Linked DNA regions of Homo sapiens: all the other regions are linked to region 2. Evidence: fine-mapped expression QTL. A gene starts in region 2. Each other region holds a variant in brackets. All regions are shown on one strand. Distances are between the middles of the regions. Region 1 overlaps SNX30 (sorting nexin family member 30). Region 2 holds the start of INIP (INTS3 and NABP interacting protein). Region 3 overlaps INIP (INTS3 and NABP interacting protein). Region 4 overlaps SNX30 (sorting nexin family member 30).

Evidence for each region. PIP is the estimated chance that this variant, and not a neighbour inherited with it, causes the effect.
Region 1: its variant is the best candidate, but not a certain one, in a credible set for the expression of INIP in whole blood (TOPMed, PIP 0.84).
Region 3: its variant is the best candidate, but not a certain one, in a credible set for the expression of INIP in blood mononuclear cells (TOPMed, PIP 0.77).
Region 4: its variant is the best candidate, but not a certain one, in a credible set for the expression of INIP in nasal epithelium (TOPMed, PIP 0.54).

Annotation. Positions count from the first base shown.
Region 1 is chr9:112,779,918-112,788,009 of GRCh38, forward strand. All of the region lies in intron 1 of SNX30 (sorting nexin family member 30), which reads left to right. Among named protein-coding and RNA genes, the nearest start is that of SNX30, 33 kb to the left of the region's middle. The variant T/A (reference allele first, on the strand shown) is at 4,539.
Region 2 is chr9:112,716,106-112,724,166 of GRCh38, forward strand. It overlaps INIP (INTS3 and NABP interacting protein), which reads right to left and starts at 2,012. Exons shown (of 5, transcript NM_021218.3): 1 at 1,882-2,012; 2 at 356-436. The coding sequence starts at 380. RefSeq lists an enhancer at 1,594-1,693 and a silencer at 2,064-2,223.
Region 3 is chr9:112,689,310-112,694,309 of GRCh38, forward strand. INIP (INTS3 and NABP interacting protein) reads right to left here. Exons shown (of 5, transcript NM_021218.3): 3 at 4,822-4,924; 4 at 218-308. Among named protein-coding and RNA genes, the nearest start is that of INIP, 26 kb to the right of the region's middle. The variant C/T (reference allele first, on the strand shown) is at 2,872.
Region 4 is chr9:112,754,163-112,762,254 of GRCh38, forward strand. The region is part of intron 1 of SNX30 (sorting nexin family member 30); the gene reads left to right. Among named protein-coding and RNA genes, the nearest start is that of SNX30, 7.4 kb to the left of the region's middle. RefSeq lists enhancers at 417-1,031, 490-579, 1,032-1,645, 1,681-2,360. The variant T/C (reference allele first, on the strand shown) is at 3,462.

The DNA of each region.
Region 1 (8,092 bases), 64 kb after region 2:
AGCAACGACAGGCTGTCACTGTACCCCACCAATGCTTTTGACATGTGCTCATCTCAGGATATGTGTGCAAGGGTGAGGATCTTGGCCTAGGACGGGGCTGACTGCTGTTAGACTAGGGTGTACTCAGATTCCAGTCTGCAACTGTGGGGACCAACGTGCTGCTTCTACCTTTTGGAGGAGGCACCTGCTGTTCTTCTAAGCAGTGAGCTTTGTTCTGGTGCCACTGCTGGGGTGCGTGTTTTTGTGGCCATGCATACATGTCTGTATTTTTCTGTTTAAACATGTACATGTATGTATATGAGCAGGCAGAATTGGGGTGAGAGGGCAAACCCAATCACAGCCAAAAGTCCCTTGGTTAAAAAGGGCATGAACAGAGTTTTGGAGATTGTTTCCTTCAACATTGTGAATGTATTTAACACTAGTGAACTGTATACTTAAAAATCGTTAAGATGGTAAGTTTTATTTTATGTGTATTTTACTACGGTTAAAAAAGAGAGAAAGAAAGTTGTAATTCCTGCTTGGCACAGCCTAAGGAAATCATTCTAGAGTCCTCAAAATTCTTGATGTGGGTTTGCTGATGGCAGCTGGAAGGGGATCTCTAAGCCTTCTATTTGCACTTCTGGAAGCTGTTTTCTTTGCACCAAAATCCAAGAAGAATGGGTTTTTTGCTTTCTCTATGTGGGCTCCTCCCTTGGTGTGGTAGCGCCATCATGCATAGAATTTAAAATGTTCCTTACATCTACCATCTGCACAGCATTTGTCTGACTGCCACTTGTGTCTTCTGCTACCTTGGGTGATTTTGAGGACTGTCTGCTTTCCCGGGGCTTGAATTTCATAGTAAGATGAAATTCACTAGGTATAAATATTACCATCTGTCATTAGTCACCACTGACAGAGGAAAAGCACTTGGGTCATTGAAAACAAATGGATACGGTAATGTGCTCTGAATCTTTGTCCCCGGCTTAGACATTGATGACGCTTAGCCATGGCTGAAAATTGAAGGTGGGGATGCCAGTTCTGTTATCAACATTTTCTCTTTAGCCAAGATGATTCAGCCCGTCACAGAGTCCCCTAACCATAGTATTGTCATCCAGCCTACATTCTCTCTTGTTTGCAAAGTCCTTCCCTTGCTCTTTTGGCACTGAATGGAGCTTTGAAAAAGCCATTTTATTTTGGTGGTGGTGTCCTGAATATATTTTTAGTGTGTTGTAGTAGAAACAATGTGGCTTTGCAATCAGAGGTAATCTTTTTAATCTTTGTCACTTTGGTGGGAGAAACAATATCTTGTTTTCATTTTCATTTTGTATGCTATTGATGATGAATGATTATTGTTTATTGGCTATATTTACATAATTTGTTCATTTTTGTAGTGGAATCTGCCTTTTAAATACTGATTTTTCAAAACCCTTAATATGTTAAAGCAAACAACCTATTTTCATGTATGTTCAAATCCTTTCCCCAGTTTGTTATTTATATTTTAATCTTTGTTATGTCTTCTTGACATAGAAAAAAAATTGCTGTCTATTATGCTTTTCCTTTATGGATTCTGCTTTTTGTTGGGGTTTAGAAAGCCTTTCCAACCACAGGATTTTATATACTATTCATCGAAATCAGAAATTGGCAGACTAAGGCCAAAAGGGTGTATCTGTCCAGCTGCCTGTTTTAGTATAACCCATGGGTTAAGAATGCTTTTTTATTGTCTTGTTTAATTTTATTAAAACTTTTTTTTTTTAAGACAGATTCTTGCTCTGTTGCCCAGGCTGGAGTGCAGTGGCGTGATCTGGGCTCACTGTAATGTCCACCTCTCAGGTTCAGGGGATTCCCATGCCTCAGCCTCCTGAGTAGCTGGGATTACAGGTGCCCACCACCACGCTTGGCTAATTTTTTTTTTTTTTTGTATATTTAGTAGAGACGGGGTTTTGCCATGTTGGTCAGGCTGGTCTTAAACTCCTGAAATCAGGTGATCCACCCGCCTTATCCTCCCAAAGTGCTGGGATTACAGGCATGAGCCACTGCGCCCCGCCCACCATTAGTTTTAAAAGTGATTTTTACATTTCTAAGTGGCTGATGAAATAAAAAGAATTATATTCTGTGCCATGTGAAAATTAGTGAAATTAAAATTTCAGTCTTTGTTAGTAAAGGTTTTTTATTTTTTATTGTTTTTTTGAGACGGAGTTTTGCTCTTATTGTCCAGGCTGGAGTGCAATGGTGCAACCTCGGCTCACTGCACCCTCTACCTTCCGGGTTCAAGAGATTCTCCTGCCTCAGCCTCCCGAGTAGCTGGAGTTACAGGCATGTGCCACCATGCCTGTTTAATTTTGTATTTTTATTAGAGATGGGGTTTCACCATGTTGGTCAGGCTGGTCTCTAACTCCTGACCTCAGGTGGTCCGCCTGCCTCAGCTTCCTAAAGTGCTGGGATTATAGGTGTGAGCCACCATGCCCTGCCATAAAGTTTTATTAGAACATAACCATCCTCATTTGTTTACCTACTGTCTATAGCTGCCTTTGCACTACAACAGCTGACTTGAGTTGTTGCAGGAGAGATACTGTGGCCACAGACTGTTCCTTAACAAAAAAGTTTGCTGACCCCTGGTATAAATCATCATGTAGTACTCATTTTTTTAACCTTTAAATGGCCTGACATTTATTTTTGCATTTAGCATTAGAGAAACTATTTTCTAAATAGTTAACCAAAAAATCCATCAGCATTTATTGAATAATCTATTCTGTCTTCACTCTTTGAAGTTCCATAGTTATCATTATTAAAACTCAGATCTGTTCCATCAGTTTAGGGATTGACATGGTGAGTTATCAAGCTATTTGGATAAGAGAGATGTTACTCAAGAGTTCCCTGGAGATGAGATTCCCCTTAACCTCCTGCATTAACACTGAATGTTCAAGTCAGATGTGCCCCTGCACAATGCTGTCTGACCACTCACATTTATTTCTATTGTAAGAGCAGACACTGGTGGGGCCTCGTTTTATTTTTCCGGATTCTGTTGGGGATTGCTGATGGCTAAGTGGAGCTGTGTGTTAATGGTTTCTGGTACTTTGGGTTGGATCTTCTCTGGAGCTGGCTGACTCTTCAGCTCCCTTGAGAAGAGAAGTGGCTTGATTTATTTTTCTGCCACTGGTGGTTCAGGAGTTTCATTGTTTTAAGAAACACTAATGAAGAATTGCTTACCACCAGGCACTTCTCCAGATGCCACAGATGCAAAGGTGAATGTGGTGGTAGTTGGGGGTTTCTTGTCCGGTAGGTAACTGTTTAATGAAATCTCTGGCGCCATGGAGGCAGACGGTGAAGGGCTACTAGCCTCTGCTCTGGAGTCTCCAGGCTGGGTTGTGCCTCTGCTTCTTATTAGCTGAGTGACTTCTTGTCTTTTAACTTTCCTGGTCTGTAACCTGTTCTCTTAATAAAACAGGGATAATAAAATTCCTCCCCTCTGCCACCAAGTTATTTTAAGGGTTAAGTGAGACATTTAATATGTAAAGTGACTTACACAGTGCCTGGCAGAGAGTGTGAACTTAAACATTTAATTTCTTTATCTTCCCTTCCCTTGATTTAGAGCTATATGTATAGACTGCTGTGAAAGGATGGATTTTGTCCCTAAGTCCATCTTAGCCCCAAGACTTTGCTTTCTATTTTGGGGTTTTGTTGTGGTTTTGAGTCAACTCATAGTCCAGGTTCCCGGGCAATCAGCTGTCCACCTTTTGCTGTCTGCCAAGGGTGGGTCCATATGTCCTAAGGAGAACACTCAGGCCAGGTGTCAGAGCCAGGTTGCGATGACAGTCTGTGGGCTGTTTGTGCAGCTGGCCTCCTTAAATGGACTATGGTCAAGATTCCCCATGTCAGTTTCTGTGCTGAGGGCTGCTGGTTTGTGAGAGTGGAAAAAACGGTTTGAATCAGGTATCACTGAAGCAAATTACTGAAGGTGAGTGACCTGTGAGAGGCAGCTGTCACGTGGGTAAGAATATGTTAAGGTGTACCCAGTGACCTTGGCTTGAGCCTTTGCTGAACACAGTCATTTCAGTAGGACTTGCCCTCATATCCTAAGGATGGGCTCTGTAGATGGCACACAGGGCTGTTGAACTTGGGTTTATTCAATTTTGCTAGAATAATAGCAGTTTCTAATCCTCTGTAATTTACCTGAATTGAAACATGATTCCTCCTGGTGTGGCCAGACTGTTTTTTTCCACCTAGGAAACATTCATCAGGGTATCCCAGGCCATATGATCTTAGCATTGACAACACCTCTCATCTGCCCTTGCCTCTCCTGGCACCTACCCCCTAGGTCAGGTACTACTGGGAGAGGGGTACCTGGACAGTTGGCAGCTCCCCAACTGCTCCCTCTCACGTCTCCTGTATTTCCCTCTTTATTTTTTCTGCATGCTTTTTTCTGAAGTCTTTTTGTAAAATGTGTCCATGATTGCAGCTTGCTGCTTAACAGCCGTTACCTGTGGGGTGCACCTCAGATTGTTAAGCCTGTTATTTAAGATTCCCTAGGATTCTGGAGCTAATCCACTTTCCAGGCCTTA[T/A]TTCCTGCTGCTTCCCCTAGAGCAGCTCATGTCCATTCAGGATGACTGGTCCCCTGCCCGTGCCTTCTTTTTTGCCTTCTGCACTTCACCCCTTGGCGATTTTGCTGATGTGGTGTTCCGTGCCAGGAACACCTTTCTCTTCCATTGAACAGCTCTGCAGAGTTTATAGAGGACTTTCTCACACATCCCCAGTAATCTCCATGCAGCCTAGCCTGGACCAGGTTTTGCTGTTTTCCAGTGAACGTCAGTAGGTTTAAGTGGTTTTCTTATGACCTCATAGCTGGTAGGAGAACTAGAATCTAAACCCGGGTCTCTTGCCATCCTGCCAAGCCCAGGTCAAACCTCCCTCTCTGAAGCCTTCCTCGGAGAACAGAATTATTCTGGCTTTCTTCTGGGCTCTAGTACACAGGTCACCTAAACTAGATTCCTCAAGTAAATTCCTTATTGGCTCCCTTTCCTCCACATCTAGAATAGCACCTAGCAGTCCATGGGAACTTGATAAGTGTTTGGATGAATACATAAGCGAACAGATTTTGCTTTCCATATCTTCTAATACGTGGTTTGGGGGAGTATAGCACCATGTTAATTAGGCTGCTTAAAACTCCTGTGTGTTGGAAAACACCTATGTTTTGGTCTATAGAATAAATAGGGAGTGATTATTTTGTCCCACTCTTTCTGCCATCTCATAGAAACATAATCAAGTATTTCATTACTTGAAGAAGGTTGCTTACAACACATTTAACTGTATCTATATTTTGGGAATGTAATTTTTTTTTTTGAGACATGACCTCACTCTGTCACCCAGGGTGGAGTATGGTAGTGTGATCACAGCTCCCTGCAGCCTCGACCTCCTGGGCTTAAGCGATCCTCCCACCTCATCCTCCCGAGTAGCTGGGACTACAGGTGTGTACTACCATGCCTGGCTAAGTTTTTTTTTTTTTTTTTGGAGATAGAATCTCACTCTGTCACCCAGGCTGGAGTGCAGTGGCACAATCTCGGCTCACTGCAACCTCTGCCTCCCTGGTTCAAGCGATTCTCATGCCTTAGCCTCCTGAGTAGCTGGGATTACAGGCATTTGCCACCATGCCCGGCTAATTTTTGTATTTTTTGTAGAGATGGGGTTTTGCCATCTTGACCTGGCTGGTCTCAAACTCCTGGCCTCAAGTGATCTGCCTGCCTTGGCTTTCCAAAGTGCTGGGATTACAGGCATGTGCCACCACGCCTGGCCGTGCCTGGCTAAGTTTTAAATTTTTTTGTAGAGATAGGATTTCACTAGGTTGCCTAGGTTGTTGGTCTTGAACTCCTGGGCTCAAGCAATCCTCCCACCTTGGCCTCCCAAAGTGCTAGGATTACTTGCCAGCCTAGGAATGTAATTTTTAGCTAAATTTTGTCTAACAACACTATACCTAGGAGAAGCTTTGAGGAAAGCCACCTCTCCCTTAATCTATCAGCACCCTTTTCAACAATAACCTTAACTAAATAATAATAATATTCTTCAGCTGATGGTTTTCTGTATCATATGTGAAGTGGAAATAAAAGCATCTTTAGAAATCCTTACAGCTTATTGATCTCTTGCATATTGGCTTCAAGATAAGCCCCCAAGCCTCTCCATACAGATGGATACCCTGTAGTTGCTGCTGTACTAACATGTAGGAGCTGTCCTTTTTTTTTTTTTTTTTGGAGACAAGATCTCACCCTGTCACCCAGGCTGGAATGCAGTGGCACCATCTTGGCTCACCACAGCCTTGACCTCCTGGGCTTAGGTGATCCTACCACCTCAGCCTCCTGAGTAGCTGGGACTATAGCCGTGCACCATCACGCTCTGCTAATCTTTTGTATTTTTTTTGTAGAGACAGGGTTTTGTTGTGTTGCCCAGGCTGGTCTCGAACTCCTGGACTCAAGTGATCTGCCTGCTGTAGCCTCCCAAAGTGCTGGGATTATGGGCCTGAGCCACCCTGCCTGGCCTCTTGTCTCTTTTCTGACTTCATTTTACACCTCATAGTTTATAGCTAAGTAAGGCTGTAAGAGTTTTTTTTTCCTCATTCATTCCTTCACTTTCTTCCTTCTTCTGTGTCTGTCCCTCTCCTAGTAGTGCATGGCCCTTGTTTACAGAGCTCATTTCTGTCTCTGGACTCAGAATGCCCATGTGAGAGGGCAAGACTGTGTGACCAGTATTAAATTTAAGGCCCTTTTCTTTTACGTCTGTCCTTGACTTTTTTTTTTTAAACTTTTGAGATGGGGTTCCACCATGTTGCCCAGGCTCATCTCGAACTTGTGGGCTCAAGCAATCTGCCCACCTTGGCCTCCCAAGTGCTAGGATTACAGGTGTGAGCCACCACGCCTGGCCCCTTCTTGCCTTTTTAAAATTTTCTTTACCTCTCCTTGTCTGGTTACTTAGGTGTGAAACTCCTTTGAGCCATTTTGGTTTAGAATACCCTCTTCCTGTTTTTTCTCTTATTCTTTAATGTTTTAACTATGATCAGACTCTTGGTTCAGGGCCTTTTTCTTTTCCAGTGAACACGCTAACCATGGGAATAGAAATCACCCACATTCGGTCTGAGTCATGTCAGTGGGAATGTGGGAATTCGATCTGGGGCAGCCAGGTAGCCAGTCAGGTGGCGCTCCAGCCTGGAAGGCCATCTGTACTTTTGGGTTGTAGGCTAGCACACTTCAGGATTCTAAAAAGATGCTGTGTGGAAACTGTGTCTCAGGCCTCGAAAAGTTCCACGGAAAAACATCTCTTCTAGCTGCTTTGTGGTGAGATGCAGATCTAAATCAATACAACATTATTGAGTGCCACAAAACTAGTACTGTACAGGGAGAACCTGTTCTGTACGGGGAGAAAAAAATGAAGTGAAGACACTGTGGAAGGAAGTATGACCTATTTGAATGTAGTCACACGTTTCCTTCTCATTTAGCACATCCTCTTGTGTTCATTTTAGGTTTGGATTGAGGATTTAAGGACAGCCCCCAGCCCCATAGGTAGGGTATGGGTGTCACAAATCATTAAATGTGGAAGTACTATACTAGAGGGCAGTTTGAATTTGGGTAGCTCAGGTAGGTCGAAATGTATTTCTGTTTCCTATTTTTAGTTTAGAGAGACAGTTTAGAATCTGTCGTGATTTTTTTCCCTCCCTAGGTATTTTTGAGGCTCTAATAATTATAGGTTCTCTCCTAAGAAGCTTAGATGTAACATCTAAGCTCCCAAAGAAGATTGGCATTTGCATGTGCACATGCAAATGTTGGTGCATAATTTTTGGCCCCCAAGGTGCCTATGGGTTTCAGAGAGACAGTCCCTATTGTAGAGGAATGGTGAGTTTTCGGTAATTTTTGAGGCAAGGACGCTTTTTTTTTTTTTAAAGATGGAGTCTCGCTCTGTCGCCCAGGGTAGAGTACAGTGGCGCGATCTTGGCTCACTGCAACCTCTGCCTCCCGGGTTCAAGCAGTTCTTCTGTCTCAGCCTCCCGAGTAGCTGGGACTACAGACGCATGCCACCACACCTGGCTAATTTTTTTTTGTATGTTTACTAGAAACAGGGTTCTACCATATTGATC
Region 2 (8,061 bases):
TCTGTCGCCCAGGCTGCAGTGCAGTGGTGCAATCTCGGCTCACTGCAACCTCCGCCTCCTGGGTTCAAGAAATTCTCCTGCCTCAGCCTCCCTAGTAGCTGGGATTACAGGTGCCCGCCACCATGCCCAGCTAATTTTTGTATTTTAGTAGAGACGGGGTTCCTGACCTCAAGCAGTCCACCCGACTTGGCCTCCCAAAGTACTGGGATTACAGGCGTGAGCCACCGCTCCCGGCCTGCTATTCATTTTTTAAATTCTGGCTACAGTAACTGCCCTATGCTAAATTTTCTCTTATTCAAATACATTTACTATATTGGGGAAATGTTCATAGTAAAGAAATTCCTGCTGTCATTACCTTGTCCTGAAGAGTTTGCTGCCATTTTCCTATTTTGTTTCAAGTATGTCCAGTGGCAATTGGTCAGCACTTCACAATCACCTATAAAATATGTGTACACACATATACAATGCACCATATTTTAATCACAAACTAAAAGGAACAGCTAGCCTCCTTACAATGAAATGTTTGCTGTTTCTTAATCTCTTCAGAAAGATACATTTGTGCCGGGCGCGGTGGCTCACGCCTGTAATCCCAGCACTTTGGGAGGCCGAGGCGGGCGGATCACGAGGTCAGCAGATCGAGACCATCCTGGCTAACATGGTGAAACCCAGTCTCTACTAAAAATAAAATTAAAAAAAAAAATCAGCCGGGTGTGGTGGCAAGCGCCTGCAGTCCCAGCTACTCGGGAGGGCGAGACGGGAGAATCACTTGAACCCGGGTGGCGGAGGTTGCAGTGAGCCGAGATCGCGCCACTGCACTCCAGTTTGGGCCACAGAGCGAGACAGCGAGACTCGGTCTCAAAAAAAAAAAAAAAGAAAAGAAAGAAAGATACATTTGAAATGTACACAGACTGAAACAAATGTAAACTCTGCTAGTGCCTCAAGCATTTAATTAAATACGGCATTGTTTATTCTTGCAGATGTTCATACCATTTAGCATTACTGTCTTTAATAAACGTCATTAGGTTGTATTTACCAAATATATCAACCAATTGATAGAGTCAATATAATCATGGTGCTAGGAAGAAAAATCATTCATCTATGGTGTCTCTGCATTCGTCTAAAACACATACCCAAAAACTACTGTGTACACTGAAAGCTAAAAAAGGTAAAGGAGTACTGTATCTGCTCTGCACCATACACTGTGTAACATGCTCGAAATTAGTTCCTTTATTTATTTATCACCATTTTATAGATGAGGAAACCGTACCCAGGGTCATAGAGCTAGTAGGAATTATTTGGGCTGCTGGTTTCCAAACTTCGTGCTTTCGTACTAAATCCTGGGGAGATCCAAGATGAGCAAGACCCTAATCCTGCTTTCAGAAGGGAAAATAAAGTCTTATTCAAGCAACCATACTATTAATTAAAAAAAAAAAAAGCTTAACAAACCCGCTCTTTAAAAGGTGGGCACAGTGCCGGAGGCAAAGAATTGATTTCATTGGCAGCAAAGAGTGATGCCTTAGTCTAGGGAGCCCGGGAAAGACACAAGGGATAGAAAACAGACACCGGTTTTTAGTAAATGAATCGTTAGGTGTCTCCAGCGGCTGAAACACAGAGCGAGCAATGCGGGGTTAGGACTGGAGGACAACAGGGCCATCTTGTGACAGGGTAGACTGGCGTGCCAGAAAGGTCCCTGCCTACGGATGTGCAGAGCCGGCTGGGCCCGGGCTGTGAACGAGACGAAGGAAGCAAGTAGGAGCCAGAAATGTTAGGTGGCAAGGTCGGAAGGGAGGTCGCTGCCTGTAGCAACAAAGACGGCGGCGACAGGTTAGCACCGGAGCCACACTTTTCTATTGCCCGGTGCCTCCAGACTGTCGTACTTACCTGGGACCCGAGGACACCGGGACCGCCTCTCCTTACAATCGCTGCTCTTAAAGGGGGCGCGACCACTTAGGCAAGAGGAGCTCAACTCGCGGCACTACAACCTTCCCGCCCCCGCTGCGCTTCCGCCTCCTGACTGACGTGCGCCCCAGGGAGCGGAAACCCCGCCTCCCGCCGGGACCCAACGGCCACCGCCCGTCGTGATTCGCACTTTAGCGGCCACCTCAGTGCAGACGTCACTTTTTTTTCCAAAGAGTGACAGTCGAAGAGGCTCACGGGAGATGCAAACGGTACTTTTGGGGGCTGGGCCAGGGTGGGGCGTGGCCCGGGGCGGGGGAGGGGCGGGGCTGCCAGGCAGGGGCGGGACGGAGAACACCTGGGTCCCTAGCACCAAGACTGGCTTTTTATTCATTGCCACCGCCTGGCCGGTCTTGCGACGGTGCGAGTCCACCTCGGCTGGGCCTCGGAGGAGGGGCGACTCTAGAAGCTAAACTCGCTTTCGAGCTTTAACAACCATCTCGGATTGCGCATCCGCACACACACACACACACACACACACACACACACAAATTCAGGAATATTTTTTGTCTACAGTTTACATAATTATACACAATGAAAGCACTGAATATGGAGGATTTTTATTACAGTGCAATAATCTGCATTTAAGAAGTGGATGTGCCACATCGCAGAACACCAAGTTGCCACTAGTGGGATCACCTGCTGCCCACCTGATTCCAGCACAGTAGATAGCTACACATTTGAATTAAAAGGTAATCGTATATTGACATGTGTTCAAATTGCACTCTTTTTAATTTAAAAAAATATTTTTTATGGTGACAGTGTCTCGCTTTGTTGCCCAGGCTGGTCTTGAACTCCTGGCCTCAAGGGATCTGCCCACCTCAGCCTCCCAAAGTGCTGGGATTACAGGCGTGAGCCACCTGCCCTGCTTAAAATTGCAGTGTCTTAATCTCTTCCGAAAGATACATTTGAAAAACGCACAGACTTAAATCACAAATGTAAGCTCCCCAAGCGCCTCAAGCATTTAATTAAATAGAATGGATAATGAATTTGAACATATGTTTTTAATAATTGATGTTTGCTCAAGAGTAAAATGTTTATGATGCACAATTTTCTTGTGCATGGATCAATGACTGAAATAATCGTTTCAATATCAAGTATTTATTTACTGAAAACCAAGCATGTATTTACTCTATACCAAGCAGCTATTGAGTGCCTTCTACAATGCGAGGTGCTTCCTGTGCATCAGCTCTGGTCCTGCTGTTCCCTGATTTATATTTGAGACTCATGTTTCTTGCTCTATGTCAAGTAGCGAGCTAAGATTCAAATTTAAAGATCTGCCAGATGCTAAGGCCTGAGTTCTTAAATCTCACACATTGCCTCTGCTCTGGAGGAATGAATTCCTCTGAGACCAGTTCTTGCTGACTTGACTTTAATCCAGATATAAAGCCTAACACATGAGCATTTTGATGGTAGGCCAGGAGTCCTTTCAGTTAAGAGGACTTGGTGAGTTCTAGTATGACTAAAAAGATGACTGAGATCTATATGGCTGATAGAACCTTAGAATTTTTTTTTGTTTTGTGGCCTAGCTAATATAGAAACTAGGGCACAGAAAGTTCCAGTCTAAGTTTCAAATGGACATTCTGAACAAAGCTTATTTAAGGAGGTGGGAGTAAAAACAGTTCTAACCCTAAACAACATTTTATAATTTCTTAGCAAATTCAGCCTCTGAGAGTTGAAAGAACATTATCAGGAGAAAGATAAATTTAACTTGCTGCCAATTCTTTTGCCTTTTACTTGGTAGGTCATAGCCCTTGAAACCCTTCTGTCTTCTCCTAGAGTTTTTGGAACTTCTGCCTCATTGTGTTAACCTCTAACACAGTGGTTAATAGTGAGTCAGTTTACTTGAATGCAAATTCGAGCTTTGCCACTTAATGATGGTGAGCCCTGGTTTAACCTTTTGGTGCCTCTGTTTTGTCATCTATAAAATGGGAATAAAAATAAGTGATTGGGTATACGTAAATCACTTAGAATAGCACCTGGCACATAATAAGAACTCAATAAATGTTGACTATTAGAATATAAACAATGAACAATCTGTTTTACTGGGTGTCTTGGCAAGTGGTCAGTAGATCAGCTGAGCCTGGGTGTGGTGGCTCATGCCTGTAATCACAGCACTTTGGGAGGCCAAGGCAGGAGGATTGCTTGAGACCAGCCTGGGCAATATAGTGAGACCTCATCTCTAGAAAAAAATCTAAAAAATTTGCCAGGTACGGTGGTGGGTGCCTGTGGTCCCAGCTACTTAGGAGGCTGAGGTAGGAGGATTGCTTGAGCCCGGGAGGTCAAGGCTACAGTGAGCTATGATTGCGCCACTGCAGTCCAGCCAGGGCAACAGAGCAATAGACCCTGTCTCCAAAAAAAAAAAAAAAAAAAAGAAAAAGAAAAAAAAAAAAGAAAAAAAACGTCAGCTGAGAAATATACTAGGGGAAAGTCCAAGACAGAAGGAGTGCATGTTATAGCCCCTTGGCTCTATTAACTGATAGCTGTCTGTGAATTACTTTATCCTGAAACCACTGTGGTTACAGACCTTCAGTATCAAGGTAGAGTTGACAGTAGTTCCTAATTTCCAACTGAAACCACTCTAACCTCCTTTTCTGGTATTTTGTGATAAAGTATTTGGGGATCTGCATGAGGCTAGACAACCTTTAAAATCAAGTGTGTAGCAGTTTGAGACAATTACTGTATTAGTTATCTATTGCTGTGTAACAAATTACCCTGAATCTTGGCAGTTTAGAACTTGGGTTTAGAACCTGGCCCTGCACTTACTGGGTGAACACTTAGACAAGTTATTTGTCTGTTCCTCAACCTCCTTATCTGTGGAAAGGGGTATTAAAAGCACCTACCTTATGCCATTGTTTTAAAGATTAAATAAAATCAAACCAGATGCCTCATACCTATAAGCTATTATTTTCTATTAAACATTAACTCATTAGAGTATTAAAACAATATGAAACATCATGAAGATTTTGTACAACCAAATGTGGTGGCCTCCAAGATGGCCCTCCTGTTGTCATCCCTTCCCACATTGAATAAACTTGACCCAAGTAACCAATGGGATATTGTGGAAGTGTCAGTATGTGACACTGATTGCAGTTGCTACCTTGGCCTCTTTTGGGTCACTTGCTCTAAGGAAGCCATGTATATGTCATGAGGTCACTAAAGCAGTCCATTTGGAGAGCCCAATAAAGAGGAACTGAGGCAAGCCTTCCACCAACAAACCAGCACCAAGTTGCCAGTCAAGTAGTGTTCCACCTTGGAAGTGGATCTTCCAGCCCCAGGCAGGCCTTCAGATGACTGCAGCTCTGGCTGACATCTTGATTGCAGCCTCGAAAGCAATCCTGAGCCAGAACCACCGAGCTAAGCTGTTCACAAATTTCTAATCCACAGAAACTATGTAGGATAGTAAATATGGCTTGTTTGTAGTTGTTTTTGTTGGTTTTTGAGACAGAGTCTCACTCTGTCACCCAGGCTGGAGTGCAGTAGTGTGGTCTTGGCTCACTGCAACCTCTGCCTCCGGGTTCAAGCGATTCTCCCGCCTCAGCCTCCCAAGTAGCTGCGACTACAGGCACATGCCACCACACCCAGCTAATTTTTGCATTTTTAGTAGAAACGGGGTTTCACTATGTTGGCTAGGCTGATCTCGAACTCCTGACCTCGTGACCTGCCCACCTTGGCCCGGCAAAGTGCTGGGATTACAGGTGTGAAGCACCGCGCCCGTCCAGACTAGCCTTTTTAAAAATAAACATTCAAGAATGTTCTAAAATAGGCCGGGCACGGTGACTCACACCTGTAATCCCAGCACTTTGGGAGGCTGAGGCAAGCAAATCACCTGAGGTCGGGAGTTCGAGACCAGCCTGACCAACATGGAGAAACCCCATCTCTACTAAAAATGCAAAATTAGCCAGGCGTGGTGACACATACCCGTAACCCAGCTACTCAGGAGTCTGAGGCAGGAGAATTGCTTGAACCCAGGAGTCGGAGGTTTCGGTGAGCCAAGATTGCACCATTGTACTCCAGCCTGGGCAACAAGAGGGAAACTCTTGTCTCAAAAAAAAAAAAAAGTTCTAAAATAAAATGTAAAAAACACCACAATGCCTTTTACCCCTCTCTGTACCACTACCTTCTATGCAGAAGATTTCTGACCATTATTAGCCTTGGAGGATTATCTAATTAAGGGAGATGGTAGGATTCATTTAGAATGAATTCTCCACATGGGCAATGATATTATCTAGAATGATAAGAAGAAAGACTGAGCCAGGGGCCAAAGTCCTCCATGAATATGTCAGTAGATGACAGCAATGAGAAGAGGATAAAGATGGTATAACCAGATGTACCTGCTTCTAAAGATTTGGAGTTTTTACATGATGGAGGAAGATGTATAGTTTGGAATTGAGAGTGTGGATTCTGGAAATACTGAAGCACCCTTCCCCTAACCCCATGCCATGATGTATGTGGTTGGACACAAGAGGATTTTCCACCTTACATGAACACAAGGGAAGCTATCCTTGAAGGAGAAGTGGGTTTTAGTTAAATCAGGAGGTAGACAGATGGTCTAATGGTACAGTGAAGAGGAACTTACTTATCATGGAAGGAAGACTTCTAGCAACTTTGGGGGAATGTTGTTTTGAGGCTGAGGGGGGTGGATCACTTGAGGCCAGGAGTTCGAGACCAGCCTGGATAACATGGCGAAACCCCATCTCTACTAAAAATACAAAAATTATCCGGGTGTGGTGGTGTATGCCTGTGGTCCCAGCTACTTGGGAGGCTGAGGCACGAGAATTGATGGAACTCAGGAGGCAAAGGTTGCAGTGAGCTGATATTGCACCACTGGACTCCAGCCTGAGCAACAGAGTGAGACTCTGTCTCAAAATAAATAAATAAATAAATAAATAAATAAATAAATAAATTAAATTAAATTAAATTAAATAAAAAGTAAGGGTTTTCGCTGGGTACAGTGGCTAACACCTGTAATCCCTGGGAGGCTGAGATGAAAAGATCCCTTGAAGCCAGGAGTTCAGGACCAGCCTAGGCAACAAGGCAAGATCCTGTCTCTACAAAATGTTAAAAATATGTTTAAAGATTAAAAAAAGAGAAAAGAAAAGTATTTTATTTTGCCACTGTTTTTTTTTTTCATTAAATAGATTGGGACTGGGCACAGCGGTTCACGCCTATAATCCCAATGCTTTAGGAGACCAAGGTGGGAGGATCACTTGAGACCAGGAGTTCAATACTTAGCCTACTCAACACAGCGAGAACATGTCTCTACAAAAACTAAAAAAATAGCTGGGTATGGTGGCGGGGGCCTGTCATCCCATCTGTGCTAGAGAGGCTGAGGTGGGAGGATAGCTTGGGCCCAGGAATTCAAGGCTGCAATGAGCTATGTTTGTGCCAATGCACTCCAGCCCAGGTGACAGAGCAAAACCGCAACTCATAAATAAATGAATATTAATAATAAATAAATAAGTAAATAGATCAAACCCTAGTGTTTTCAATGAACTATGAAAAGGACTCACTAAACTGCACTAAGCTGCTTGTGGAAAATGGCTGCAGGAGTGAAGTGTAATCCTTTATGTCATCTACTTCTAATTTGGTCACTTCTAAGGGACCAGGTTGCCAATAATGTTTTAGTATCCTCAAAGTACCTAGAAGAGTGCTAAGCAGGTATACCTGATGATTGGTCTTTAATGTAAACCTAATTAAAGCTGAAATGTGCCCTTTCATTCATTTATTCAATAAACAATGCTATGTCAGGCACTGAAAATACAAACAAAATGATCTGTCCTTGTCTAGGGGATGCTTTGGATTGTGCAGGCCAGAATCCCACTTTTGCTTTTTCACTGCTTTAAAAGCTGATCTAGGCCGGGCACAGTGGCTCACACCTGTAATCCCAGCACTTTGGGAGGCTGAGGCAGGTGGATCACCTGAGGTCAGGAGTTCAAGACCAGCCTGGCCAACATGGTGAAACCCTGTCTCTACTAAAAATACAAAAATTAGCTGGACGTGGTGGTGCGTACCTGTTGTCCCAGCTACTCGGACGGCTGAGGTGGGAGAATCGCTTGAACACAGGAGGTGGAGGTTGCATTCAGCCAAGATCACGCCACTACA
Region 3 (5,000 bases), 28 kb before region 2:
TCAATCATGACCGAGTCAACACCATAAAAGATACTTTCATTACTGCTGCACTGGTCCTTCAAATCCTCTGGGCTTGACTGAACATCAGCAAACCATTGCAATTATGTGTGGAACATTTTTATTGATATTGCTCCACTGAAATATAAAATAACTATGTGCCGGCTTCTGAGATCCAGGAAACCTCCACCGAGGCAAGAATGTCAGTTACACTGCTCACCTGCAAAGCTGCCTTCTGTTGGGCTGCAATATGCTGCTGCTCAGCGTGATCCCGGAAGTCCTTATTAAGAGAGGGTCTCGAGAGTGCAATGCTAAAATGGGAATCTTGGTTACTCAGCTGCTTAAGGCAGAAACATCCTTACTTTTTTTTGGATGGTAGTAAATTATCTTCTTTTTTTTAAATTGAGGTATCCTTGACAAAAACTGCATATACTTCCAGTGTACAATATGATGTTTTAGTATTTGTATTTGTTGTGAAATGGTTAAATCAAGCTAATTAACATATCCATCACCTCGCATACTTACCATTTTTGGTTGTGGAACATTTAAGATCTCTTAGCAATTTTCTTAGCAAAAAATTCTCTTAGCAATTTTCAAGTATGTATCATTAACTATAGTCACTATGCTATATAGTAAATCTCTTAAAGAGATGTCCTTACTTCTGAATCACAACTTTTCATTATATATTCTTTATAGGGGTAAAAAAAAACCTCCAAGAATAAGTCTTTTTTCCTTCTCTCACTATCTTCATGAATTTATATAAGAAAGTCTATGTTATTTACTGAGATTTTAAATGGTCTGGAAAATGTTATAAAATGTAGACCTTATCCTAACAGTAATAGGAGACCTCCAAAGAGTGTTAGGCAGCAGGGGAGTGACATGATCAGAAGTATAACCCTCTTGGCCAGGCGTGGTGGCTCATGCCTGTAATCCCAGGACTTTGGGAGTCCGAGGCAGGAGGATCATTTGAGCCCAGGAGTTCAAGACCAGCCTGGGCAATACAGTGAGACCCCATCTCTACAAAAACAAGATTAACCAGGTATGGTGGCATGTGCCTGCGATTCCAGCTACGTGGGAGGCTGAGATGGGAGGATCGCTTAAGCTTGGGAGGTCTGGAGAAGGTGCCACTGCACTCCAGCCTGGGTGACAGAGTGAGACCCTGTCTCAAAAAAAAGAACTATCATCCTGTAGTTCAGAAAGACCACTATTGCACTACTGTGGCAGACAGTGTTGGTCACCTCCTCAACAGTTGTTTGTCTCCTTTCCTCCTTGCTGATGGAACCCAAACTTGGTTCAATTATCAGTAGTCACATGCTTCAAGGCAGGCCAGGCTCATGCCCCAGGGGGTAGACCTTGATTGATGTAAGACAATGTCATTCCCCTAGCTGGTTTCTGGTTTAGGCAAGAGAAAGGTACATAATCTGGGCAACCAGACTTGATGGGTGTCTACAGGAAGGCTTCTGAGAGTGTTCTCCTCACTCTTACAAATGGGACACACCATAGGAACCTTTCAGGCTTTTTCCTCTACAGGTGGCTCAGTGCGGGGTGATGCCTAAGCCACTGCAGTCATATTCTGGCCTGAGGGAGCCACTGACCCATGGGGTAAAGCAGAAAGGAAAGATGAATGAAGCTGCATCACTAATGATATTGTGGCCACTGAATTAAGCTACTCTGGAACTACCTTATCTTCACACTCTTGGTTAACAGATACCCAAATGTTTATGCCAATTTTGTTATATTTCTGTTACTTCCCGATTAAAGCTTGCTAAATGACACAACTGATGAATGTATTCAAGAAGCGTAAGACCACAGGAACTCTGAAGCAGTTATAATAATTGAGGCAAGAAATGAGAGTGGCCAGGAATCAGGATAGCATCAGTAGCAATGAAGGAAATGGTCAGATGTGAGACACCTTTCAAAGTATAATCACAAGAGAATGGTGAATGCTTGGAGATGAAAGTGAAAGGAATGGTAAACAACTGAAGTTCACATTTCTGACTTTGTAACTAGTAGATGGCAGCCTGAACCATTTACTGAGACAGGATACACAAGAATATTCAGTAGCTGATTGGAGAGCGGGGAGAATGAGTTCAGGTTGGGACATACTACATTTGAAATGCCTGTGGACATCAAAGTAGAGACATCCAGGAGGCAGAGGTGGTGCTTAGAAGAAAGGACAGACTAGAGCTGCAAATGCGTAAGTGATTAGCACGTAAATAACAGCATGTGGGAAAAGATGCAACTGTCCAGTGAAAACAGGCAGGCTAGGAAGCCTGGTCTAGAACAGAATTCGAAGGGCTGTCAGCATTCAAGGGACAAATAGAGAAATGTCCACAAAAGAAATCAAGATAGTCTCCTCCTACTGTGTTTTACATTCTCCGAGTGAGCAAATGGAAGCCAAGAGAGTACTTTAAGAGAGTGGGCCGGGTGCAGCGGCTCACGCCTGTAATCCCAGCACTTTGGGAGGCCAAGGTGGGTGGATCACTTGAGGCCAGGAGTTTGAGACCAGCCTGGCCAACATGGCAAAACCCCATCTCTACTAAAATTACAAAAGTTTGCTGGGTGTGGTGGGGTACGCCTGTAATCCCAGCTACTTGGGAGGCTGAGGCACGAGAATCACTTGAACATGGGAGGCAGAGGTTGCAGTGAGCCAAGATCGTGCCACTGCATTCCAGCCTGCACAGCAGAGACCCTGTCTCAAAAAAAAAGAAAAAAGAAAAAAAAGAAAAGAAAGAAAGTGATCAGTGGTGTCAAATAACACTAAGATGTCTGATAAGAAAAGGACTCTGGTCTGCCAGATTTAACCCGGGAAGGTTACAAGAGACCTAGGCAAGAACATTTTCTTTGATGGAGGGCCTGGAAGTCAGACTGCAG[C/T]GGGTTGAGGCATCAATAAGTGAGAAAGTAAAGATGAGTACAGCCAATTGCTTTAAGAGAAAGACAGAAGAGAGTTAGGGTGGTGGTGGCTGAAGGGGATAATGGATCTTTTTTGTTTGTTTGTTTTAGACAGTCTTACTATATCATCCAGGCTGGATTGCAGTGGTGCAATCAGCTCATTGCAGCCCCAACCTCCCAGGCTCAGGTGAACCTCCCACCCAGCCTCCCAGGTAGCTGGCACTACAGGCATGCACCACCATGGCTAGCTAATTTTTTGTATTTTTTGTAGAGATGGGTCTTGCCACGTTGCCCAGGCTGCTCTCGAGCTACTGGGCTCAAGTGATCCACCCACCTTAGCCTCCCAAAATGCTGGGATTACAGGCGTGAGCCACCATGCCCGGCAATAATGGATCTGAGGGAAGATACTAAATATGGCAGAGACTGAATACCTATAATAAAGATCATCAAGCTACCTAAATTTGGCCTACTTTGCAGAATGATTAAAAAGTGGGGCACTAGCAGCAATTGCAGTAATAAAAAACCATACAAAACTCAAAAAAAAAAAAAGGCTATAAGGGCTAGGTGCAGTGGCTAACGCTTGTAATCCCAGCACTTTGGGAGGCTGAGGCAGGAGGATCACTTGAGGCCAGGAGTTTGAGACCAGCCTGGGCAACACAAGACCTCACTTGTTTCTACTAAAAAACAAAAAAATTAGCCAGGTATGGTAGGGTGCACCTGTAGTGTGAGATACTCAGGGGCGATCACCTGAGCCCAGGAGACTCAGGATGTAGTGAGTTATGATTGTGCCACTCCACTCCACTCTAGGTGACAGAGTTAGACCCTGTCTCAAAAAAAAAAAAAAAAAAGTCTGAAGGCTATGAAGTCTATAGGGAAAATTAAATATTCTAGTTAGAATGTTTACAATTTAATCAACTAAACAGTTTGTTAAAAGTCTGACTAGGAAATGAAGGGAACTAGAATATGTCACCTAAAATATGCTTCTTTGATATAAAAATTATTTTTGAGCTGAAAGCAATTAAGAAGCAGCTCAGTTAATAGGGTTGCTTAAAAATAAAAATAAAAGGCAGCAGCAAACTGAGGAAAAGCTCTCTCTCTCCCCTCCCCACTTTCTGCCTAAAGATAGGATAGAACTTCTCCTCTACTGGAGACAACTCTAGACTCTTAGCCTAGGGACAGCAGCAGAGGACTCTGCCAACAAGCCTTACTCCATTCGTTTTCTCCATATATTTACCTTCTCAGTTTCCCACCCCAAGAAGCCTAAAATCCCTTTTGTTTGTTCCACATTTATTGTTCTTTGTTGAAGATGCTATATAAGTAGAGTTCTAAGCCATGATTTTGAGTTATAAGGTTTCTCCCTTGTGATGTGTGCTGCATGCACTCATAAATTTGTTTTTCTCTTGTTAATCTGTCTTTTGTTACAGAGGTCCCTCCCAATAAGAACTAAGTTGGGCACAGGTAAAGTTTAGCCTCCCCTATACAAAGAAAACACAATGAATAGATTGCAGTGTTAAAGAAAAAAATCATTGCCAGCCAACTTGAATTATTTGGTCCAAGAAATTTTTATATCACTGAATATAAAAACCACATTACAGGCCAGGCACGGTGGGTCACGCCTGTAATCCCAGCACTTTGGGAGACCAAGGCGGGTGGATCACCTGAGGTCAGGAGTTCAAGACCAGCCTAACCAACATGGTGAAACCCCATCTCTACTAAAAATACAAAAATTTGCTGGGTGTCGTGGCAGGTGCCTGTAATCCCAGCTACTCGGGAGGCTGAGGCAGGAGAATCGCTAGAACCCGGGAGGCGGAGGCTGCAGTGAGCCGAGATTGCACCATTGCACTCCAGCCTGGGGGACAGGGCGAGACTCCGTCTCAAAACAAAACAAAACAAAACAAAACAAACAAAAAACCCACATTATAGTGTCAATACCTAGCTCCAGGATGATTTGTTGAAGACTGGTTCTGCATAAGTAGTTTTCTTTTCTCTTTGTCCAGTTCTGCCAAGATTGCAACTCTATTTTTGTTTTGAAAACCTAAAAAAAAGAGGGGAATAGGAGAAAAGGGAGAAAGAGAGAGTAATCAGAAACATTTTAGACCTATTTTTATAAC
Region 4 (8,092 bases), 38 kb after region 2:
GGGCCCAAGATGGTGCGATGAACAGGGTAGCCTGGTGTCTTGGTCCAGCTGACGCTTGTGAATGAACTCTGTAGTGCTTGGGTAGAAGAGAAAGACTGAATATGATGGACTCTCCACCAATTTCTCAAATTGTTCAAATCATGGTGTGATGCCTCCCTTCATAGGCTCCCAAAGGAGGAATCCTTTCTATCTACCAGAGGTTGCCAGGACTAATTCTTTTGATGCCTGCTAAACTCACTGGGCCTTTTTTTTTTTTTTTTTTTTTTGAGATGGAGTCTCACTCTGTTGCCTAGGCTAGAGTGCAGTGGTGCAGTCTCACTGCAACCTTTCCCTCCTGGGTTCATGTGATTCTCCTGCCTCAGCCTCCTGAGTAGCTGAGATTACAGGTGACTGCCACCACACCTGGCTAATTTTTTTATTTTTAGTAGTGATGGGGTTTTACCATGTTAGCCTGGCTGGTCTCGAACTTCTGACCTCAGATGATCTGCCCACCTCTGCCTCCCAAAGTTCTGGGATTACAGGCGTGAGCCTCACTGGACCTTATATGGCTATCTCCATCTAAAATGTAAATACATCACTTAGCCTTACTCTCCTTTTTTAACTTTCATCTGTAAATTGCTCCAGGCTGCTTCTCCTCTGACTCAGCCTCTAACTTCTGTACCCCTCCCAAAACTTAATACTGGATTCTTAAGCCCCATTGTGTGGCTAACACCTCCTCCCACATCCTCAATCTCTTCTCTGAACTCTTCATCTACTTCCTGCCTCCTTAGGTCACTTAGACGTCCTCTGAAGTCTTCAAAATAGAGAAGGCTTTTCCTCCATCACCTTTTACAAACCAGGCTCTGCTCCTTTGAGGCTCCTGTCATTCTTTTTGTTCATTTGATACATATTTGAGGGCCTACTATGAGCCAGGCACTGTTCTAGGAACTTGAATAAATTAGCTGAAAACCCTGCCCTCACTGGATACATTTCAGCAAGTTTGTACTGTATTACACCATAAATGCCATGGAAGGAGGAAAAAGGAGAACTGGCCGCGAGGAAGAGGATTTGGCAGGCCTTGTTGAGTACTTGATATTTGAGCAGACTGGAAGGAGGTGAGGGAGTTAGTGGGTGAGTATCTGAAGAAGACTGTCCGGGGAGGGACTGCCTGAAGCAGAGGCCGGAAGGCACAGGGCTGGTGTGTCGGGGAGCAGCCTAGAGGCCAGTGTGGCCAGGTAGAGTGAGCATTGGAGAGTTAAAGGCTGGGGGCAGAGAAGGGAGGGGTCAGATTATATTGAATGTGGCCGGTCACCCTGAGGACTTTGGCCTTTATTGCTAGGGCCATGGGGTGGGAAGTTAACATGGGCAGGGGACATTTCAGGGTCTTGAGCAGGAGGGGGGCATAGTTTGATTATATATTGAAAAGGATCACATAGGCTGTTCAATTGAGACTACCTTGAGCATTCCCCTGAATTAGTTAGGATTCTTTATTAGTTAAAAAGACATGAGCTGAATGCAAACTAGATAGAGGAAAATAAAAATCTACTGGCTCACGTTGCTGAAAAGGCCCAGGTATTTTGGCTTCAGGGATGGCTGGAGCAAGGTATTCCAGTGATGTCGGGGATCTGTCACTTTCCATCTCTTGGCTCTGCTTTCTTCTGTGTCAGCCTTGTTCTCATGCCAGTGAAGGGATATGTTCTATAAACAAGCTTCCCAGCTCCAGCAGAAGGAGAGCACTCCTTTCCTGATAGTTCTGGCCAAAGCTCTGGGCTGGTGTCTCATTGGTCTAAATTGGGTCAGGCGCCTAAACCAGTCTCTGATTCTGATTGCGCAGACTTGAATCAGGTACTTATCTTTGGAATGAGGAAAGGAATTTTTTTAAAATTGGGGAATATATACATGAAGTTTATAACAATGTGTGTATATAAAGAGTAAAAGTTATCTGTACAGTTTAAAGACTAATAAAATGTTCCTACCCCCAGATTAAGATACAGAATATTACAAATATTTTGGAAGCCCCCTCTGTGCCTGGGAAGGGAGGAGGTGGTTGCCAGAGCAAAATCAAGAAATGTTAGACAAGCAGGAAACAAATATCCACTACAGACCTTCCAATACTGTTTTCTTTGTCATTTTCCAACTTCACACCTTCTCACTCTCATTCATTAAATCTTTAGACCCCAACTTACTGTCTTCTGAAATCATGTCCTCACCACGGGGCTTTAATCATTCACATGGCTGATCTGTCCAACTCTCCAAAATTACCAGTTTCTTGACCTCCTTATCTGTAATCATCCTTTTTTTTTTTTTTTTTTTTTTTTTTTGGGATGGAGTCTTGCCCTGTTGCCCAGGCTGTGGTGCAATGGCACGATCTCAGCTCACTGCGATCTCAGCTCACTGTAACCTCTGCCTCCAGGGTTCAAGCGATTTTCCTGCCTCAGCCTCCTGAGTAGCTGGGACTACAGGTGCCCACCACCACGCCCAGCTAATTTTTGTATTTTTAGTAGAGACGGGGTTTCACCATATTGGCCAGGCTGGTCTCGAACTCCTGACCTCAGGTGATCCGCCTGCCTCGGCCTCTGAAAGTGCTGGGATCACAGGCGTGAGCCACTGCGCTCGGCTCCTTCACCTTTTTAACAGTTCATCTGCTCTCTCCCACGGCCGCACCCTGCGTTGTAATACCTAGAAGCATTCCAGCTCTGAAATAGTGCCACTGGATATTATCACATTTTATTGTGTTTATTTAAGGTATACAACTTGATGTTATGGGATACACATAGATAGTAAAAGTTTACTATAGTGGAGCAAATGAACACAGTCATCATCTCATAGTTAACTCATTTTGTTTTTGTGGCAAGAGCATCTAAATTGACTCATTTAGCATGATTGTCAAGTACAGTACAATTTTATTATTAATAACTCTAGTCCTCATGTTCTACATTAGATCTCCAGACTTGTACACTCCTCCATATCTGCTATTTTGTATCCGTTTACCTACATCTTCCCATTTCCTCTCCCACCTGCCCTTGGTAGCCACTATTTTGTGTTCTTTCTCTATATATTTGAATTTTTTTAAAGATTCCATATGTAAGTGAGATCACTCAGTGTTTTTCTTTCTGTGTCCGGCTTGTTGCACTTAGCATAATTTCCTTCAGGCTCATTCACGTTATGGCAAATGACAAGATGTCATTCTTTTCTGGGGCTGAATAATATTCAGTTTTGTGTGTACACACACAGTACAGTTTCTCTATCTGTTCGTCCATTGAGGCCTGCTTAGGTTGTTTCTATATCTTGGCTATTGTGAATAATGCTGCAGTGAATGTGGGAGTGCAGATATCTTTATGAGGTGTTGATTTCAGTTCCTTTGGGTATGTGCCCAGAAGAGGGATTGCTGGGTCATATGGTGGTTCTATTTTTAATGTCTTTAGAAACCTCCATACTGTTTTCCATAATGGCTGTACCAATCTACATTCCTAACAGCGTTG[T/C]ACAAAAGTTCCCTTTTCCCCGCGTATATCATTTTGTCTTGCTTTCCCGTCCTGGCTTTCCAGGTCTCTGAGTCATTAACAACTGACTATACCTGTTCTGTTCTGTGACCTCTTGGATTCCCCTACCTCCTTTAGATTCTGTGGCCCATCTCCGTGGTTGCTCCTGCCTCTATATTCAGTTCCCTTGCTCTCTTCTTTTTATACCCAGCTTGGATCATTCCATTTGTTCATGTCTTTCATCTACAACCAGGGTTCTCAGGAAGCTCAAGGGTTGCTGCCAATGTAAGTTCACAGGTTTCAGCCACAGCTGGGGCTTCAGTGGTCCTGGACACTCCTTCTTTTCCACAGACCCTCCGTCTGCACAGTGGCTTATCTGAAACTTTTCTCTGCTCCTCATACCCTCTACCCTTCTACTCCACCCTTCCTTCTGCTGATTGCCTCACCTTCCACCTTAGAGAAGATGGAAGCCACCAGAAAGGAACTTCCCTTCTTCAAATTTCAGAATGATCTGACTCCATAGCCATGTTTTCTTTCTGGCCCTTGTTCCAAGGAGAGAGTCTAAGGCTGACTGAGGGTGTAGACCCACCTGCCACCCCCCATCCTCTTGGAGACCCTGCTCTGTTTGGCCTCCTGACTTACCCCTGTATCTTTGGACTCCCTCTCAACCAGCTCACTCCCATCAATATTTAAACATGCTCAAGTTGCGCTCTCTCTTTTTTTTTTTGAGACAGTATCTGGCTTTGTCACCCAGACTGGAGTGCAGTGGCACGATCTTGGCTCGCTGCAACCTCTGCCTCCTGGGCTCAAGAGATTCTCCTGCCTCAGCCTCCTGAGTAGCTGGGACCACAGACGCGCATCACCATGCCTGGCTAATTTTTGTGTTTTTGGTAGAGATGGGGTTTCGCCATGTTGGCCAGGCTGGTCTTGACGCCTGGCTAATTTTTGTGTTTTTGGTAGAGACGGGGTTTCGCCATGTTGGCCAGGTTGGTCTCGAACTCCTGAGCTCAAGCGATCTGCCCGCATCAGCCTTTCAAAATGCTGAGGTTACAGTTGTGAGCCACCATGCCTGGCCAAGTTGCTCTGATTTTTAAAACACAGAAAGAGTGGCTGGGCGTGGTGGCTCTTGCCTGTAATCTCAGCACTTTGGGAGGCCAAGGCAGGAACATTGCTGGAGGCCAGGAGTTTGAGACCAGCCTGGGCAATATAGTGAGACCTTGTCTCTGTTAAACACACACACACACACACACATACACACACAATCGCTTGAGCCCAGGAGTTTAAGACCAGCCCGGGCAATATAGTGAGAACTTGTCTCTATTAAACACACACACACGCGCGCACGTGCACACACAGAGAGAAAGAGTAAAGGAAGCTCTGCTATGATGTTCTTTTCTCCTCCATCTGGTGCCTTTTTTTTGTGGGGGTGGAGATAAGGTCTTGCTTTGTTGCCCAGGCTGGTCTCGAACTCCTGGCCTCAAGTGATCTTCCTGCCTCAACTTCCCAAAATGCTTGGATTATAGGCCTGAGTCACTGTGCCTGGTCTTGTGCCCTATTTTGTGACTCCTCTTTACAATACACTTTTCTGAAGAGAAGGTTTGCGGCCCTTGCTTCCACTTCCTGACCTCTGACATACTCCTCAGCCTCCTGCTGCCTAGTTTCTGACTCTGTTCTTCAGGGTCCTCAGTGATCTCATTATTGCTAAATCCAGTAGATGCTTTATAGTCCTTATTTTGCCTGACCCCTTGGTAGGTAACACTTGATCCTGTTGTTAACCTCCTGCTTGAAATGCTTCCCCTCCACTTCCTGTTTTAAGGTGTGCACACGGGCCAGGCATGGTGGCTCACGCTTGTAATCCTAGCACTTTGGGAGGCCGAGGCAGGCAGATCACAAGGTCAAGAGATCAAGACCATCCTGGCCAACATGGCGAAACCCTGTCTCTACTAAAAATACAAAAAGTTAGCTGGGCATGGTGGCGCACACCTGTAGTCCCAGCTACTTGGGAGGCTGAGGCAGGAGAATCGCTTGAACCGGGGAGGTGGAGGTTGCAGTGAGCTGAGATTGCGCCACTGCACTCTAGCCTGGCGACAGAGCAAGACTCCATCTCAAAAAAAAAAAAAAAAGTTGTTCATGCTGGAATCATGTTGTCTGGATTTGAATCTCAGCCCCACCACTTAGAGTCTTGGTAACAGCAAGTTGTTTAACGTCTCTGAGCCTCAGTTTTCTCATCTGTGAAAAGGGGATAACAGATGTGCCCATGTCACTGGGTTGATAGGAAGACCCAGCGAGTTCGTAGAGTAGTGGGTGATGTATATAGCGAACCTTTAAGAAATGGGAGGTGTTGGTGGTTGTTATTCCTTGATATTGTACTCTCCACATTTCTTTCTACATTTTGGCCTATGCTTTGTCGATTTCTATATTAGTTGAGGTCTGATCAGGGAATAAAAGCCAGTGAAGTTATTTCAAACAGAGAGACTATAATACAAGGAGTTAGTTGCATAGGTGATGGGTGGTAAATTGACCCAGAGAGTAGCAGTAGCAGGAAGTTGCTGTTACCCTCAGGACTGGAGGGTTAGGGGAAGAGGCGAAGTTAAGTAGAACCCAGGAGCTTCTGTGAGAACTAGACCTGTGGCAGGGTCATTGAGCAGGAGCTGGGACCTTAGAGGAAGGGGGCCCTGGAGGGGAGGCAGCCGCTGCCAGTGGCACGATCTGAGGCAGAGAGCAGGTTGGGACAGAAATACCCTGGCTTGTCTCCTCATCCTTCCCATTCTGGTCTAACATCAATATCTTTTATTAGCCAAAATAGCATCCCTGGTGGATGTGTGACCCTAACAGAGCCAGGCAGTCTTTCCTGAGATTTATGAGATGGATGATGGGGGAAAGAATGTCTTGCCTTTCTACTAGATTGTGAATGGTCGTGTCCTTCAATGCAGAGAGTGCTTGGCTTAAGAATGAAGCCAGAGGGAAGTAGAGCTAGGAGAGGAAGAGGGGCAAGATCATTTGAGTTCAGGATCCGACTGTGCCAGCTGTGCCTGAAGTTAGAACGGGTTCCTGGTTATAGGGGGTCATAAATTCCCTTTTGTTAATACTGTTTTCAATTTGGTTTGCCACTTGAAACTTAAATTACCAATACCGTGACCTTAAAATATGACTTGAAAATTGGGTTTTACCTGAGGAGTAGGGAGAATGGGGTGTTTATTCCTATTGGCAGCCCCACTAGCTGGGGGTATGTCTGCAGATCAGCTGAGGTCGCAGAGGTTGTGTTTTCACCAGGTCCGTGAAGTTGGAGGGGGCTTTCAGATGTGGGGTGGGAAAAGCCCCAAGGTGAAGGGCAGAGACAGGAAAGACCTGTGGCCGCTGGAGGAGGACTGAATTGGGTCATGCGTTGGGAGTGGGTTTTGAGAGTCTAGAGGTGGAGATTAGTGAGAGACGAGGTGGGTAGACAGGTCAGGAGGTTAATGAGACTGTTTTGAGTGCTGTGATGTGGAGGTTAGCTTTTATTCTTTCAGCAGTAGCTAGTCCTAGAGGGCGTGGTTTTGTTTGTTTGTTTGTTTGTTTTTGAGACGGAGTCTCGCTCTGTCATCCAGGCTGGAGTGCAGTGGTGTTACCTTGACTCACTGCAACCTCCGTCTCCTGTGTTCAAGCGATTCTCCTGCCTCAGCCTCCCGAGTAGCTGGGATTACAGGTGCATGCCACCACGCCAGGCTAATTTTAGTATTTTTAGTAGAGATGGGGTTTCACCATGTTGGCTAGGCTGGTCTCAAACTCCTGACTTCAGGTGATCCACCCTCCTTGGCCTCCCAGAGTGCTAGGATTACAGGTGTGAGCCACTGCTCCCGGCCCCAAGAGGGTTTTTGAGCAGGGGGATGTGTGATCAGGGCTTGGGATGGGGAAAGACCAGCCGTGAAAGAGGTAAGATAGGAAGAATTAACCTGGTTTTGGTTGGACTTGTTGCCTGACAAGAGAAAGATTAGAAAATATAAAGATGACAGATTTTGGTGTAGTGGGGGTGACTGACTAGAAAGTCCAGGAGATTGATGCTGAACAGTGGTGCCGTCTTTGAGAGGGGGGCGCAGACCGGGAAGCACATGTGCGAGTGAAGTGTAAAGATGACGTGGACACGGTTTCAAGTCAGGCATTCAGGACAGAGGATGCCTGAAGGCCACTGTTGCAAGCCTACTCAAACTTCAAGGCTCAAACAAATGCTGCCTCCAGGAAGCTCTTTTTTATTAAATAGATGTATAATCCCAGTAGATCCAAATAGAGACTGGAATAGAAGATGGAGAGGTTTGAGGTCAGAATTTAGACAAAGTGCATATTGACAATAAAGTAGGGGGTAGGATGTCATCGCAGTTTGAAAATCAGGTGTTAGTGAAGGCCACTGGGAGGAAGGCCGGTGTTCCACGATAAATGAGAGCCTCTCAAAGTAAAATAAGTACATAAACAACAGCCTGGCCAACAGGCGCTGATGCATGTATGAGCAATGGGGTTTGTTTACTAGACATTAGAGGACTCATATGCTGTCTTATGTCTGCCTTGCCCCATAGAATTCTTCATTTTGGCAGCCAGCGCAGGGATCAGGAATTGTTGTTTGTGTGAATTTTTGTGTGTGTGTTGGTGGGGGGGAAGTGGGA